Linked DNA regions of Homo sapiens: region 2 is linked to region 1. Evidence: fine-mapped expression QTL. Tissue or cell type: prostate. Region 1 holds a variant in brackets; the other region holds the start of a gene. All regions are shown on one strand. Distances are between the middles of the regions.

The links. PIP is the estimated chance that this variant, and not a neighbour inherited with it, causes the effect.
Region 2: it holds the start of EFEMP2, and the variant in region 1 is fine-mapped to the expression of EFEMP2 in prostate (GTEx, PIP 0.98).

Annotation. Positions count from the first base shown.
Region 1 is chr11:65,403,167-65,408,436 of GRCh38, forward strand. It overlaps FRMD8 (FERM domain containing 8), which reads left to right. Exons shown (of 11, transcript NM_031904.5): 10 at 1,698-1,902. Among named protein-coding and RNA genes, the nearest start is that of NEAT1, 17 kb to the right of the region's middle. RefSeq lists an enhancer at 1,082-1,581. The variant A/T (reference allele first, on the strand shown) is at 2,845.
Region 2 is chr11:65,870,063-65,875,192 of GRCh38, forward strand. EFEMP2 (EGF containing fibulin extracellular matrix protein 2) reads right to left here and starts at 2,738. Exons shown (of 11, transcript NM_016938.5): 1 at 2,621-2,738; 2 at 2,182-2,299; 3 at 1,908-1,956; 4 at 1,095-1,301; 5 at 474-596; 6 at 59-175. The coding sequence starts at 2,292. RefSeq lists a silencer at 3,741-3,800.

The sequences.
Region 1 (5,270 bases):
TGTGTCTGCCTTTTTTCTTTTTTTCTTTTTTTTTGAGATGGAGTCTCACTCTGTCGCCCAGGCTGGAGTGCAATGGCGCGATTTCAGCTCACTGCAACCTCCGCCTCCTAGGTTCAAGCGATTCTCTCACCTCAGCCTCCTGAGTAGCTGGGATTACAGGAGCCTGCCATCACACCCAGCTAATTTTTGTATTTTTAGTAGAGATGGGTTTTCACCATGTTGGCCAGGCTGGTCTCAAACTCCTGACCTCAGGTGATCCACCCGCCTCGGCCTCCCAAAGTGTTGGGATTACAGGCGTGAGCCACGGCACCTGGCCTGGCCTGGGACTTTCTATGTGGACAGTCGTGTGGTCTGTGAGTTGGGACAGCTGGGTCTCACTTTCCAATCTGTGTGCCTCTTGCTTGCCTTGCCTGACAGTGCTTCTGACCCCCAGTGTAGGATGGATAGGTGTGCGCAGGCGTCCCTGACGCACCTGGCCTGAGAGAGAACATTGTCTTTCACTGAATAAGTGGGATTTTGCTGTGGGTTCTTCAGAGATGCGCTTCATCAGGTTGAGGAAGTTCCTTTCTGACGCTGGCTTGCTGAGTTTTATCTTGGACAGATGTTCAGCAGAGCTTCCTCTTTTGGCTGCATTTGAACGGCAGGCTTCCTGAGCCTCAGAGGCATGTTGCTGTGCAGGAGTTTTTGTTCTAGGAAACTTAGTAGGCTTCCCTGTTATGGTTGCACTCAGGACTCTGTCCCCACCGGCTGCCGTCCCCTCGCCAGCCCACTGCCCTTTGGCTGGTGGAGTCCACTTGGTGAGGAGAGGAGTGTGGGTGGACTGAGCTGAGGGCAGGGAGCGTGGAGAGCCCACCAGGCCTCTGCTCTTCCTTCTGGGCCGAGCAGCGGTGCCCACCTGCCCAGCCCAGAGGGATTGTAGCTGCCCTGTGGAGAGGCAGGAGCCAGGCCAGTCTCCGCAGGGCCACTCCAGCATCTGACCCAGCCCCACCAGTCAGGAGCACAGGTGGCCATTCCTGTCTACTTGGCCTCATCTTATCCCAGGCCTGCAGCAGTGCTTGGCACGTGGGAGGCACTCAGGAAATACCTGTGTCCTAAGGGGTGCCACCCTTTTAACACCCTCTGCGACTCCCTCAAACCCCTGAAGGCCCTGTCCTTGGTGCCCAGCTGTGCCCGCTGGCACCCGGCTGCTGCATCTTTTCTGTCAGTGTGCCTCATGCTTCACACCTGTTGAGTAGGAGTCACTTTTGAAGAACGTGCTGGCAGGGAGCCGCCCGCCCCTGCCCTGGTGACATCGCGCCCCTTCCTCCTGGCTGCAGGTTTTCCTCCCAGCCAGCACCACCCGCCTCCCCGCCCCGCTTCCCCACTCTTCGTCCTCTCTGCAGCAGCTGGCTCCCTACCCCCTCCCTCCCCACCTGCTTCTGCCCATGGAGTCAGCCTTCCTGGGCTGTGCCTTCTGACCAGAATGTTCTTTCTTTCCCACCTGAACTCCCAGATCTGGAGACCCCTCCTCATCCACCAGGACTCACCTTCACAGTCACCCAAGTGGGACACCTCCCCTGCCTCCCTGCTCCCTCCCTCCTGAGTGATGTGTGTCCCCTCCCCTGCTTCCCCAACCAGAGAGCAGAGCTCATTTCAGGCTCAGCAACAGGCATGGAAGGGGGCCCTGGCCAGGCCTCACACTGCCCCCTCCTCCCCAGGCCGAACTGATGAGCAGTCTCATTGAGTACTGCATCGAACTGAGCCAGGCGGCGGAGCCCGCAGGCCCCCAGGACAGTGCGACTGGCTCGCCCTCGGACCCCAGCTCCTCACTGGCTCCTGTTCAGCGCCCCAAGCTGCGGAGGCAGGGCAGTGTGGTGTCCAGCCGGATCCAGCATCTCTCCACCATCGACTACGTGGAGGACGGTGAGCAGCCCTTCTGTGCATGTGCACACACAAACACGCATGCGCGTGCACACACCGGGGGGAGTTCCTGAGGACAGGGCATTGCAGAGCAGCTCCAGACCCAGTGTGAGCTGGCCTCCATCTCAGGACACAGCTGTGAGCAGGCCGAGCCCGGGCCTTGGCCATAGTGCCTTTCCTGTCCCTTCTCACTGCTGCGTCACAGACGTTCTGCAGCATTGTCCAGGATGTGATCCGGGAAACGACTCAACATCTGTTACTGAAGTGTTGGGTAGGTGGGGCGCGGTGGCTCACGCCTGTAATCCCAGCACTTTGGGAGGCCAAGGCAGGAGGATCACCTGAGGTCAGGAGTTCAAGAACAGGCTGGCCAACATGGTGAAACCCTGTCTCTACTAAAAATACAAAAAAAGTAGCGAGGTGTATGGCAGGCGCCTGTAATCCCAGCTACTCGGGAGGCTGAGGCAGGAAAAACGCTTGAACCCAGCAGGCAGAGGTTGCAGTGAGCCGAGATTGCATCATTGCATTCCAGCCTGGGAGACAGAGCAAGACTCCGTCTCAAAAATAAATAAATAAATAAATAAAGCGTTGGGTAAATCACTGCTGTGACCACATCTTGGGGTGTTGAGTGCAGCTGGTAAAAATACAGTACCCAGGCCGGGTGCAGTGTCTCACACCTGTAATCCCAGTACTTTGGGAGACCAAGACAAAGAGGATCACTTGAGCCCAGGAGCTCAAGACCAGCCTGGACAACAGAGTGAGACCCTGTCTCTACAAAATATACTTAAACTTAGCTGAGCACGGTGGTATATGCCTGTAGTCTCACCTTCTTGGGAGGCTGATGAGGCAGGAGTATCTCTGAGCCCAGGAGTTGGAGGTTTGCAGTGAGCTACGATTGTACCACTGCACTCCAGCCTGGGTGACAACGATGAGACCCTATATATATAT[A/T]TTTTTTTTAATTAATTAATTAGTTAACTATTTTTGAGACGGAGTCTCACTCTGTCGCCCAGGCTGGAGTACAGTGGCATGATCTCGGCTCACTGCAACCTCCGCCTCCCCAGTTCTAGTGATTCTCCTGCCTCAACCTCCCGAGTAGCTGGGACTACAGGTGTGTGCCACCACACCCGGCTAATTTTTTTTTTTTTTTTTGAGACAGAGTCTCACTCTGTCGCCCAGGCTGGAGTGCAGTGGGCGCGATCTTGGCTCACTGCAAGCTCCACCTCCTGGGTTCACGCCATTCTCCTGCCTCAGCCTCCTAAGTAGCTGGAACTACAGGCGCCCACCACCACGCCCGGCTACTTTTTTGTATTTGTAGTAGAGACGGGGTTTCACCGTGTTAGCCAGGATGGTCTCGATCTCCTGACCTTGTGGTCCATCCGCCTTGGCCTCCCAAAGTGCTGGGATTACAGGTGTGAGCCACTGCACCCGGCCCTAATTTTTTGTTTTTAGTAGAGATGGGGTTTCACCGTGTTAGCCAGGATGGTCTCAATTTCCTGTCCTCGTGATCCACCTGCCTTGGCCTCCCAAAGTGCTGGGATTACAGGCGTGAAACATCACACCAAGCCCGAGACCCTGTTTTTAAAAAGGAATACCCTGGCCGGGCGCAGTGGCTCACGCCTGTAATCCTAGCACATTGGGAGACCAAGGCGGGTGGATCACCTGAGGTCGGGAGTTCGAGACCAGTCTGACCAACATGGAGAAAACTCTTCTCTACTAAAAATACAAAATTAGCTGGATGTGGTGGTGGTCGCCTGTAGTCCCAGCTACTTGGGAGGCTGAAAGCAGGAGAATCGCTTGTACCCAGGAGGTGGAGGTTGCAGTGAGCCAAAATCACGCCACTGCACTCCAGCCTGGGCAACAAGAACGAAACTCCGTCTCAAATAAATAAATAAATAAATAAATAATAAAAAGGAATACCCTAAATGCATCTTGTGTCAGATCCTGGAAGAGAGGACATTTGTGGAAAAACTATTGAAGTCCAAAAGAATTTTAGTTAACAGATACTGTGTCAGTGTTCATTCCTTAGCTCTGATGTGGTGACAGAACATGCTGTCATCGGGAGAAGTTGTGGCGGTATTCTGGAACTCTCTACACCTTTACAGCTTTCCTAGAAATCTAGAATTATTCCATGATAAAAAGTTTTTTAATGCAGTAACAAAGATCTACATTTATTTATTTATTTATTTATTTATTTATTTATTTATTTAGAGACAGAGTCTCGCTCTGTCACCCAGGCTGGAGTGCAATGGTGTGATCTTGGCTCACTGCAACCTCCGCACCCTGGGTTCAAGCGATTCTCCTGCCTCAGCCTCCCTAGTAGCTGGGATTACAGGGGTGAGCTACCACGCCCAACTAAGTTTTGTATATTTAGTAGAGACGGGGTTTCGCCATGTTGGCCAGGCTGGTCTCAAACTCCTGACCTCAAGTGATCTGCTCACCTTGGACTACCAAAGTGCTGGGATTACAGTGTGAGCCACCGCACCCGGCCAGAGATCTACATTTTACATGGCAAGATGTTCACAAAATAATATTCAGTAAAAAGAAATGGCCAGGCGTGGTGGCTCACGCCTGTAATCCCAGCACTTTGGGAGGCCAAGGTGGGCAGATCACGAGGTCAGGAGATCGAGACCATCCTGGCTAACAGGTGAAACCCTGTCTCTACTAAAAATACAAAAAGAAAAAAAATTAGCCAGACGTGGTGGTGGGTGCCTGTAGTCCCAGCTACTCGGGAGAATGGCGTGAACCTGGGAGGCGGAGCTTGCAGTGAGCGGAGATCGCGCCACTGCACTCCAGCCTGGGCGACAGAGCGAGACTCTGTCTCAAAAAAAAAAAAAAAAGGAAATGAGTAACAGGACAGCATGTGTGCAGCCATGCGCATGAGGAGGGCGGGCCCAGCTGTGGCCGTCAGCGGCTGTAGCTTTGACTTTTTCTTTGTACTTCTTGGAGCACGTAAATCTGTTACAATGAACATGTCATTTTTATAGTCTTGTAATTTTTAGAATAATTGTTTTTTCTTTTTTTTTTTTTTGGAGACGGAGTTTCACTCTTGTTGCCCAGGCTGGAGTGAAATGGTGCGATATCGGCTCACCGCAACCTCCACCTCCCGGGTTCAAGCGATTCTCCTGCCTCAGGCTCCCAAGTATCTGGGATTACAGGCTTGCACCACCACGCCCAGCTAATTTTGTATTTTTAGTAGAGACGGAGTTTCTCCATGTTGGTCAGGCTGGTCTCCAACTCCCGACCTCAGGTGATCCGCCCGCCTTGGCCTCCCAAAGTGCTGGGATTACAGTCGTGAGCCACCGCGCCCAGCCCTAGAATAAGTTTTATAATCAGAAAAAGCAAACTTTTTCTACAATGTAATTTGGACCACTGTG
Region 2 (5,130 bases), 470 kb after region 1:
GCCCCCACCTCACACCTCCCTGCCCAGGACCCAGGAGCCTGGCCCAGCCCAGCCTCACCAACACAGGAGCGGTTGTTAGGCCCCAGCTGGAAGCCCGGCTCGCACTGGCAGCGGAAGGAGCCAGGCAGGTTCACGCAGCGGTGCTGGCAGTAGCGGTAGCGGCACTCGTCTATGTCTAGGGATAGAGGCAGGAGAAGGAGGGCGGAGGGCAGAGGGCAGAGGGCAGGTGGGCTCGAGCCGGCTGGGACTCAAGGCTTCACCACCCATAATCCTGTGTCCGAGGAGCTGAATTAGGCAGGGTCAGCCAGGACACCTCCCAAACACTCCCCGCTACAGTCCTCTGTGTCTGATGACGGAGGGTGAGGTGGCAGGGGCCGGGGGTGAAGCCTGGCTTGAATGGGGGTCAGGTGCTAGGGCAAGGGCCAGACCAGGGACACAAAGCCGGGACTACAGAAGCTGCTTCCTGGACTCACCCACACACTCGGGCCCGATCTTGCGGTAACCATCAGGGCAGGTGCACTGATAGGAGCCAGGCAAGTTATGGCAGTCCTGGCTGGGGCGACAGTCGTGCAGGGCCTGGGCACACTCGTCCACATCTGCGAGAGACACCACTCAGCCCCTGCCTGGGATCCCGCACACCACCCAACATGACAGATAGTTCCAACACTTGTATTCGGTTCTCTCAACAGCACGCGTAAGAGTTCACCAGCCTGGAGCCATCAGGAAAGGCACCCCTAACCTCTAAAACCACATGTTGGGGGTTGCACAGGAAATAAGGTCCTGTCCAAACATCCCCAGCAACACTGATTCCTGGACTGTCCTTCCTCCAAGGCCTGTGGCTCCCAGGGGACAGACACTGGAAGGCAGACTTCCTGCAGTGTCTCTGCAGCAACCGAGGGGAGGGGCCCGGAGCTGGCTGGAGCAGTGGCACACAAGCTGGGGCCACCTGCGGCAGGTCCTAAACAACATGAGTGTCTGGATGAGGGTGTGGACATCACCAGTGGCCCTTTTGAGCTGGGGAGGAACATGAGGTCTGAGTTTAAGACGCCTGGTGAGAGGACTGGAAGCCAGGCACCAGAGCAGTCCCCACTCACCCACACAGCTGTCCTGATCGTCGGGCTCATAGCCTGGTGGGCAGGGGTTGGGGTGTTGAGCGGGAGGCACTGGTGGCGGGGGTCCCTCGCCGTGTAGGTCGTTGATGACGGCAGCGGAGCGGGGCAGGCACAAGTAGCCCCCGTAGTGGTTGATGCACTTCATTTCCCCCTTGCAGGCCTCAGGGATGGTCAGACACTCGTTGACATCTGCAGAGAGGGGCCTGCTGGGCACAGCCAGTCTCCTGGGCTGGCCCTGGAGGGAGCGGAGGCAGGAACCCAGCTCGGCCTTCTCTGAGATGTGTGGCCCCAGCAAAGCCTTCCCACTCTGCTCAACAAGCTAAGTCTGCCTGCTCAGGACCCCTCCCCAGGGTTGGCCAAGGCTGGAGATGGGGCAGCTGTTCCCACTGTTGCCCTCATTCTCGGCCTGCAAGTGGGTCTCTATCCCTCCCCACGGCCCTAGCCCTAGCTCAGCCCAAGATGGGGGGCCTCCTTACCCACCCCTGGGGACGCTACCCTCCCAGGTTGTGATGAGACAAAGAGCTGGGACAGGAGAGTGGTTCAGAGAAGGCGTACAGGATCCAGCTCCTCTGAGGGGTAGGGACAAGGTTTCCTGGGTTTCTGGGAGAGGATGAGGCCACCCCTAGCTCAACTGGCCTCCAGAGAGCCAGAGCTGGCCTCTGTGTAGCAGAGCTGGGCATAGAACGGGCTGCTGGGCTCCCACGGCAGTTCTTGGAGGTGGGGCTGTCCCTTGGAAAGCAGCTATCAATCCCTTTCCGGGTTCCTGGGGGTGTTTGGTCCCCCAGGCACACACACCCCGGCAGTGCTGGCTGTCTGGGTCCCACTCATAGCCATCTGTGCATTCCTGGAAGGGAACCAGAAGTGGCCAGTGGTCACCCTAAGATCTCCTCCAACTGGCCAGGCCAAGACTAGGGCCTGAGCCTGGCCACCCTCCGGCCTGCTCCAAACAATGGCCCCCAGCTCTCCACCAGCCAGGGGAGGAAGACTTCCCCGGCAGCAGTCACCCTGGGTCCCGGTCTCTTCCTCCCTACCCTTCCTGTCCCAGGCCAGCGGCCCTCACTGTCCCCACCGTGTAGCTGTCGGGCTCTTCAGAATCCTGAGGAGAAGCTGATCCCAAGAGCAACAGTAGCAGCGCCCAGAGCAGTAGAGACCCGGGTAGGCAGGAGGCGCAGGGGAGCATCCTGGGGCTGCGAGATGGTGGACACGGGTCAGGGGCCTCTGCCCGCGGCACCTCAACTCCCTGTACCGGGAGCCCGAGCCCAGCCCCCGCCACTGCCCGCTCAGGACCGTGCTTGGGCCTCGGGGCCTCCCAGGGCTGGGGGCCGACTCCTCACAGGCCCAGGTCCCAGGCCCGGGTCCCAGGCCCACCCGCCCCGGCCACCCCGCCCCCGCCCCGCGCCCCTGCGGCGAAGGCCGAGGAGCGCGGGCCTCTGTGGGCGCTACGCTGCCGCGGACTCGGCCGAGACTCCGGCCCACGCCCTCCCCCACGGACGGTCACAGCCACTCACTTGGGCCCGCGACACCCCCGCGGCCCGCGGCTCTGGCGGCTCGGCTGGCTCGGGCAATGCCTGCGGGCAGACGGACGGGCGGACGGCACAGCTCCCTGGACGCGCGGCCCCAGGAAGCGCCCCCCGCCCGCCCGCCTGCCGCGGCGCGGCCCACCCCGGCGCCTCCGCCCGCCCTTCGGCGGATTCCTGAGCCAGCGCCAGGGGGAGGGACCCCGACCCCCCGCTTCTCCGCCCCCGGCCAGCCACAGGCCCCTACCCGGTCCCCCGCGGCGCCGCCAGGAGCCGCCTCCCGGCGCCGGACCAGGGTCCCCCAGTGCTCGATCCTGGGGCCCCGACCTTGATGCCAGGCCCCCAGACTCACCCGGGGGCCCCCAGACGCTCACCAAAAATGTCATCCTGCTCACCTAGGTCCTACCTAATCTGCGCCCCCAGAATTTCATCCTGTGCACCCACACCGTAATCCTGGAGCCCCCAGATTCTCATTGTGCGCCTCCCGAGATCGTCCTGGGTACCTAGAGCCCACCTAACCCAGTCCTCCAGACCCTCAATCTGCTCCCTGCAAAATTTTATTCTCTGCCCCAGACCGTCATTGTAAAAGATCCTAAAACTTCATCCAGGGTCCCCAGACCCTCGCCCAGGAACGAGAGGCTCCCAGGAGCAGAACTGTCCTTCTCGCTCCCTCCTGCCCTCCACCCCCAGGACCGTCTTCAGCCGGGTGGTCCTTTCACTACACACGGCCTCCCCCACACCCTCCATCCACAAAGCTACAAGTTTGGGGGCGAGGGCGGCAGTTCCCTTTTGGCACAAAATGAATGGAAGCCCCTGAGAAGGAGGGCAGGGCTGATGTCGGACGTGCGGGATGCCAGAGTCGGGTGCCAAGGCGCCTCCTCGACCTCCTCGCACCAGCGTCCCCCGCCCGGTTTCCGCCTCCGCCCGAAGTGGGGGCGTGTCCTTGGGGCGGAGTATGGGCGGGGCTGGCTCCCAGGAAGGGCGTGGCCTCTGTTTGCCCACGTCTTTGGGCGGGGCCAGGCGGGAAAGCACTGCGTGTCCGGGGATCCCCCGCCTGGGGCCCGCCCTTCCTTTCCCCTTGCCATCCCTGCTTATCCCCGCAGTCGCCCTCCACGTGACCCCGGGGAGGGAGTCTGCCGAGGAGGGGACGTGCTGGTGGGTCCCGCGGCGAGCGCCTGGGGCTCAGGTGAACTGCGCAGTGCCCGCTCCTCGCCACTCTGCCACCACCATCCCTCCCAGCTGCTGGGGCAGAAGGTTAAATAATAGCTCTTTAGGGGCCGGACGCGGTGGCTCAAGCCTGTAATCCCAGCACTTTGAGAGGCCGAGGCAGGTGGATCACCTGAGGTCAGGAGTTCGAGACCAGTCTGGACAACATGGTGAAACCCCGTCTCTACTAAAAATATAAAAATTAGCCAGGCGTGGTGGCGCGTGCCTGTAGTCGCAGCTACTCAGGAGCCTGAGGCAGGAGAATCACCTGAACTCGGGAGGTGGAGGTTGCAGAGAGCCCAGATCACACTGCTGCACTCCATGGGTGACAGAGGGAGACTCCATCTTAAAATAATAATAATAATAATAGGCCCGACGCGGTGGCTCACGCCTGTAACCCCAACACTTTGGGAGGCCAAGGTGGGCAGATCACAAGGTCAGGAGTTCAAGACCAGCCTGGCCAACATGGTGAAACCCTGTCTTTACAAAAACACAAAGAAATTAGCTGGTGTAGTGGCACGTGCCTCTAATCCCAGCTACTCGGGAGTCTGAGGCAGAATAATCTCTTAAACCCGGGAGGCAGTTGTTGCAATGAGCCGAGATTGTGCCATTGCACTCCAGCCTGGGCGACAGAGCGAGACTCCATCTCAAAAATAGTAATAATAATAATAGCTCTTTAAAACGAGAAAGACAGTAACAAGTGTTGGCAAAGATACGGAGAAACTGGAGCCCTCATGCACTGTTGGTGGACAATGGTCTGGCAGTTCCTCAAAATGTTATCACATGACCTGACAATTTCACTCCTAGGTATACATACCTAGGATAATTGAAAAGATATGTACACACACACAAATCTGTACGCAGCGTTTATAGCTGCACTATATATAAGAGCCAAATGCAGAAACAACACAAAAGCCGTCAACTGATGAATAACAAGATGCAGTACATCCACACAGTCGAACATTATTCAGCCATAAAAACTAATGAAGTACTGATGCATGCCACAATATAGGTGAATTCTTTTTTTTTTTTTTTTTTTTAATTGAGACGGAGTCTTGCTCTGTCGCCCAGGCTGGAGTGCAGTGGCGCCATCTCGGCTCACTGCCAGCTCCGCTTCCTGGGTTCACGCCATTCTCCTGCCTCAGCCTCCTGAGTAGCTGGGACTACAGGCACCCGCCACCAGGCCCGGCTAATTTTTTGTATTTTTAGTAGAGATGGGGTTTCACCGTGTTAGCCAGGATGGTCTCAATCTCCTGACCTTGTGATCCGCCTACCTTGGCCTCCCAAAGTGCTGG